2 separate regions of the Homo sapiens genome follow, and region 2 is reported to be linked to region 1. Evidence: microRNA targets listed by miRTarBase, many of them from high-throughput screens and not tested one by one. Region 1 holds a microRNA gene; the other region holds the end of a gene's coding sequence.
Evidence for each region. The annotated mature microRNA hsa-miR-490-5p reads CCAUGGAUCUCCAGGUGGGU and lies in region 1 at 886-905, opposite strand. An mRNA with a match to its seed (bases 2 to 7 or 8) in the 3' UTR can be bound and repressed. Matches are read on the target gene's strand: a 7mer-m8 pairs with bases 2 to 8, a 7mer-A1 pairs with bases 2 to 7 and ends in A, and an 8mer does both.

Region 2: the mRNA of CX3CL1 is a reported target of hsa-miR-490-5p. Seed matches in the 3' UTR shown: 7mer-A1 at 1,570-1,576 and 7mer-A1 at 1,582-1,588.

What each region holds. Positions count from the first base shown.
Region 1 is chr7:136,900,862-136,904,109 of GRCh38, reverse strand. MIR490 (microRNA 490) reads right to left here and starts at 943; the gene lies at 816-943. The region is part of intron 2 of CHRM2 (cholinergic receptor muscarinic 2); the gene reads right to left. It overlaps LOC349160 (a long non-coding RNA gene), which reads left to right. Exons shown (of 4, transcript NR_046103.1): 3 at 2,109-2,260.
Region 2 is chr16:57,382,740-57,385,739 of GRCh38, forward strand. CX3CL1 (C-X3-C motif chemokine ligand 1) reads left to right here. Exons shown (of 3, transcript NM_002996.6): 3 at 1-2,305. The coding sequence ends at 293. Among named protein-coding and RNA genes, the nearest start is that of CX3CL1, 12 kb to the left of the region's middle. RefSeq lists enhancers at 973-1,663, 1,664-2,353, 1,773-1,932.

The sequences.
Region 1 (3,248 bases):
AAACAAACTTTTAACTCAGTTTCACTTGCAAATGTAGATGCAAAATGCTTTAGTAAAATGGTAGCAAATGGAATTCAATAGTACATTAAAAGAGTAACATATCATGACAATTAAAGCCATTGGATTTAGAAATGTATTAGTATCAGGAAAACAAATAACATGTCACTTCACATAGTCTGAATAAGAAAATATATATATATGATAATTCCAATACAAGAAAAATAAAACATTTGATAAAGGTCATCTCCTTAATATCATGTACAACACCTACTTTAAACCAAACCCCAAGGCCATATTACTGTTAAAACACTAGTAGAGTTATTAAAACATCACAAGAATGACTGTTTCAGCATTATTAATTAACATTATAAAACATTTAGCCAATTAAAGATATAAATAAAAATGAGAAATATTGTAAAACAGAAGGCGTATTATTTAAGAATAATATGCTGATACACCAACTTTAGAAATCCAATAAATTTAAATTTTAGAAAATTGCAGTCTTAAATGCTAGATTTGCCTGTTACTAAAATTCATTCTGTACATAATTAAAATTCACAAACAAATATTTTACTTATACTTCTATCATTTCTAATCAGCTTTTTAAAAGAGAAATCTTTTAATACTTATTTTCATCCTAGTAGTTTACATTGTGACACCAGCTCTAACAATATCCACAAAAATAACAAATACTTGGATGCTGAGGTGTGAATTTTGTTCCCATTTTTGAAAGCAGGAAGAGTAAGACTTCCTTTTGAAGGAGATTTGCACATACACTATAGAAGACACCCATTTAGTTCTTGGGAAGATGGAGTTGGAAGTGTCCGCTGCTTGTGAACAGCTCAACAGCATGGAGTCCTCCAGGTTGGTGCATCTCTAAACTTGACCCACCTGGAGATCCATGGTGTCGAACAATGAACTTTCCAAACCAGCAAGGCCTCCATAAAGTGAAGGGAGATCCTCTTCACCACCGTTGGTTGAAGAATAAAAAACCTACACCTACACTAGCCCAAATGAGTTTCTGTTGTTTGTCTTCTGTGTCAGAATTTCATTCATTCATTTCCCATCTCTGGCCTATTGTTTAAAGTTGCTGGCCATAATGTATACTTTCCAGACTCCAGGTTAATCCCAGGCTGAGAAGCTTTGTTTGTTTGATAATGAAAAACTGAACAAGGAAACAAGCAAAAACTTGCAAATAATGTGTACCTTATCATAAACATCCAAAGAGTACAAAATTCTGTGCTCTGCAGTTGCTGTATAACAAACATATTAAATTGTACTTGATTGAGCAAATATTTACATCTTACTGTGGAATTTCAAAGTTTAATGTCTACACGTCTTATTAAGGTTGTTATCTATTATTGTATGGTGGAGAAAGGATATCTAGCTGATAGTCATGTTTAAAAACTGACCTGGGTTTGGGACTGCAACCAAATTCTAAGGGCCTAGCTGTTTATGATTTGCCCATTCCATTCAGGGTCGTCCTAATCCCTTCTCAATCTAAGATGCTTCATTCTCACTATAGTTTGCTCGAGAAAGAAAGTGGCTGCTTATGGTATGAGTTCATAAGAGTCATCTAGGATTGTGTTTAATACCCTATCCCACCAGCTTCTAATTTTTACGTGCATTTAATTGGGGCTATATTTGTTAGTTTTCAATTAGAAAGAGACAGATAAAAAGTAAACTGCACACATTATCAGAGGATGCTATAGCTTACCTTCTCACTTATTATGAATTTGCCACCTAAATTCAAACTCTTCTGAAATTTATACCAATTATTAATTCTGAAAGCAATTCTGATTATCTTAATAACTAGCAACTGACTGCAAACATAGAAGGATAGCTAGGTGGATAGATGGATGGATGGATGGATGGATGGATGGATGGATGGATGGATAGATAGATCGATAGATAGATAGATGAGTTTAAAAGGAAGATCACAGAATCAATGTTAGTAGTTAACAATTATTTTTATATTTTGTTTTGAGAGTAGGCTTTGATGGAGCCTAATGAAAGCCATAGAAGAAGCTAAGGGGAGGCTGGACTGTTATAAACAACCCTTCACTTATCTAATACAATTTAACTAAGCTTATCATTTTTTTTTATAGAAAGAGAAATTGATCAGAATCTACTGACAGTTCTTCCTGTCTGGCTGTGTAATGGATTAGCATAGAGACGAGCAGCACACCTCTGTCAGAAAACCTAAATTTAAGTCACATCTCGGGGCTCTAACAATTTACCACCAACAGCGTCTTTGGAGGTCAGCCCCTGAGTCCATGATTCCCCTGTATTATTGGGAAAGAATTAAGAGGTTTTGTGAGTTATGCATGAGATGTGTGTGCAAGTTCTTTGTAAGCTGTAAATCTTACACATTTATGAAATTATCAATGTTGTTATTTTGTAAATGCAACTGATCAAGAGGCTAGGTTCTTACAACAAATGGATCAAAAAGCGTCTGTATGTTCTCAAAAAATAACAATGGAAATGGGGGAAAAAAATGACATCAGGGAATGGCCAAACTGGGTTGCTTAGGGTCCAAAGATCATTGCTATTCAAATCACTGCACTACAAGATCGGGTGAGATCTGCTAATCTGTTTGGGTCACTATAGGTCAGGGCACAGCACATTATAGATGCTAAATAAATGTGTTTTGTATGAATAAATACACATTTTTCTTTTCCTGTAGTCAATATTTAGTGTGTCTATTTTCAAATTTGCCTACGTGGTAAAGCCACAGTGACATTGAAAACTTGCCCTGCAAGTGCCTGTGAATCTGAACTGTCTCAATCTGTTTCTAGCTGGAATGCAGCTAGAACTGCATGCAACCCACTATACCTTTCTATTTTTCCAAGAACCAAAAACCGCAAGTCCACATATTTAATTTCACGTAATTCTCACATGCCTGGATCTTGGAAATGGAATTTTTCCTTTCCCAGGGCACTCGTTTCCACTTTGGGGGTGCCCACACTCCCCGGGCTGTACAGGACAATCTACTGGCTTGCAGGAAGAAAGTATTAGAAACTCCGTTCTCAATTACTGTTATATCATTCTCTAAAAGAGGTTTTTTGTGTATGTACTATGATATACATAATCATGGAAAAATTATTTCTATGTAATTTATAAATAAGAATATATCCATGCCTTGATTGGAGCTCAAAATTCTGTTATGAATAGAGGTGTGTAGCTCACATTCTTGGTACCCTACCCATATCATTCAGATCTTTCAGTGTTCCCCTGCTGACGTCTAT
Region 2 (3,000 bases), not on the chromosome of region 1:
CAGTGGCTTCAGGCAGCTGGACCCCTAAGGCTGAGGAACCCATCCATGCCACCATGGACCCCCAGAGGCTGGGCGTCCTTATCACTCCTGTCCCTGACGCCCAGGCTGCCACCCGGAGGCAGGCGGTGGGGCTGCTGGCCTTCCTTGGCCTCCTCTTCTGCCTGGGGGTGGCCATGTTCACCTACCAGAGCCTCCAGGGCTGCCCTCGAAAGATGGCAGGAGAGATGGCGGAGGGCCTTCGCTACATCCCCCGGAGCTGTGGTAGTAATTCATATGTCCTGGTGCCCGTGTGAACTCCTCTGGCCTGTGTCTAGTTGTTTGATTCAGACAGCTGCCTGGGATCCCTCATCCTCATACCCACCCCCACCCAAGGGCCTGGCCTGAGCTGGGATGATTGGAGGGGGGAGGTGGGATCCTCCAGGTGCACAAGCTCCAAGCTCCCAGGCATTCCCCAGGAGGCCAGCCTTGACCATTCTCCACCTGCCAGGGACAGAGGGGGTGGCCTCCCAACTCACCCCAGCCCCAAAACTCTCCTCTGCTGCTGGCTGGTTAGAGGTTCCCTTTGACGCCATCCCAGCCCCAATGAACAATTATTTATTAAATGCCCAGCCCCTTCTGACCCATGCTGCCCTGTGAGTACTACAGTCCTCCCATCTCACACATGAGCATCAGGCCAGGCCCTCTGCCCACTCCCTGCAACCTGATTGTGTCTCTTGGTCCTGCTGCAGTTGCCAGTCACCCCGGCCACCTGCGGTGCTATCTCCCCCAGCCCCATCCTCTGTACAGAGCCCACGCCCCCACTGGTGACATGTCTTTTCTTGCATGAGGCTAGTGTGGTGTTTCCTGGCACTGCTTCCAGTGAGGCTCTGCCCTTGGTTAGGCATTGTGGGAAGGGGAGATAAGGGTATCTGGTGACTTTCCTCTTTGGTCTACACTGTGCTGAGTCTGAAGGCTGGGTTCTGATCCTAGTTCCACCATCAAGCCACCAACATACTCCCATCTGTGAAAGGAAAGAGGGAGGTAAGGAATACCTGTCCCCCTGACAACACTCATTGACCTGAGGCCCTTCTCTCCAGCCCCTGGATGCAGCCTCACAGTCCTTACCAGCAGAGCACCTTAGACAGTCCCTGCCAATGGACTAACTTGTCTTTGGACCCTGAGGCCCAGAGGGCCTGCAAGGGAGTGAGTTGATAGCACAGACCCTGCCCTGTGGGCCCCCAAATGGAAATGGGCAGAGCAGAGACCATCCCTGAAGGCCCCGCCCAGGCTTAGTCACTGAGACAGCCCGGGCTCTGCCTCCCATCACCCGCTAAGAGGGAGGGAGGGCTCCAGACACATGTCCAAGAAGCCCAGGAAAGGCTCCAGGAGCAGCCACATTCCTGATGCTTCTTCAGAGACTCCTGCAGGCAGCCAGGCCACAAGACCCTTGTGGTCCCACCCCACACACGCCAGATTCTTTCCTGAGGCTGGGCTCCCTTCCCACCTCTCTCACTCCTTGAAAACACTGTTCTCTGCCCTCCAAGACCTTCTCCTTCACCTTTGTCCCCACCGCAGACAGGACCAGGGATTTCCATGATGTTTTCCATGAGTCCCCTGTTTGTTTCTGAAAGGGACGCTACCCGGGAAGGGGGCTGGGACATGGGAAAGGGGAAGTTGTAGGCATAAAGTCAGGGGTTCCCTTTTTTGGCTGCTGAAGGCTCGAGCATGCCTGGATGGGGCTGCACCGGCTGGCCTGGCCCCTCAGGGTCCCTGGTGGCAGCTCACCTCTCCCTTGGATTGTCCCCGACCCTTGCCGTCTACCTGAGGGGCCTCTTATGGGCTGGGTTCTACCCAGGTGCTAGGAACACTCCTTCACAGATGGGTGCTTGGAGGAAGGAAACCCAGCTCTGGTCCATAGAGAGCAAGACGCTGTGCTGCCCTGCCCACCTGGCCTCTGCACTCCCCTGCTGGGTGTGGCGCAGCATATTCAGGAAGCTCAGGGCCTGGCTCAGGTGGGGTCACTCTGGCAGCTCAGAGAGGGTGGGAGTGGGCCCAATGCACTTTGTTCTGGCTCTTCCAGGCTGGGAGAGCCTTCCAGGGGTGGGACACCCTGTGATGGGGCCCTGCCTCCTTTGTGAGGAAGCCGCTGGGGCCAGTTGGTCCCCCTTCCATGGACTTTGTTAGTTTCTCCAAGCAGGACATGGACAAGGATGATCTAGGAAGACTTTGGAAAGAGTAGGAAGACTTTGGAAAGACTTTTCCAACCCTCATCACCAACGTCTGTGCCATTTTGTATTTTACTAATAAAATTTAAAAGTCTTGTGAATCAATATGGGTGATTTCTCTGGGGACAAGTGCAGCAATCAGGGCTTCGGAGGGGAAGGAGTGGGGCAGGGCTGGGGGCAAGACCCCTTTCAGCCCCGGAGACCCCTATCTCCAGTTCACCTGGGGCAGAAAAGCAGACATTTTTACAGTCAGCAAGAGAAGAAGCACCAGGGATTAGAGTGAGGAGTGCCGAGCCCTCAGCCCAGCTCTGTTCTGCCCGGCTGTGTGATGTTGGGCCAGGGCCCTCACCTCTCTGGGTCTTATAAATGTGAGGCCTCTCCTAGTCTGGCAGGACTCAGAATCCCTCATGAAGCCCTACCCCATGCCTGCCGAACCACCATCCCAGGGGCCCTAGGACCACTCTCAGTGAACTGGTGCCCCATGGGAGGAAACTGGCCCATAGTTTCCTCTTTGTGGCCTTCCTGGTTCAGATGAAGATCAAAGAGGGATTACTTCTTAAGGGACTTGGGAGTTCATAGATGTGCCCCAAGTGTGAGCCTCGTGGTGGCCCCTAAGCTCTTCAGTGTTCTGGGAAGCTTCATAAGAGCTGTTGTGTACAGTTGTGCAGGTTGGAAACTGCGCAAGGCTGCCACAGACCAAGTCCAGCCTACTGGTATCCAATATTTCATGAATGTTAGGATGCATCCTTTTCACACTGTGACATGTGTGGAATTGAGACTCGTTTTGTAATCAATG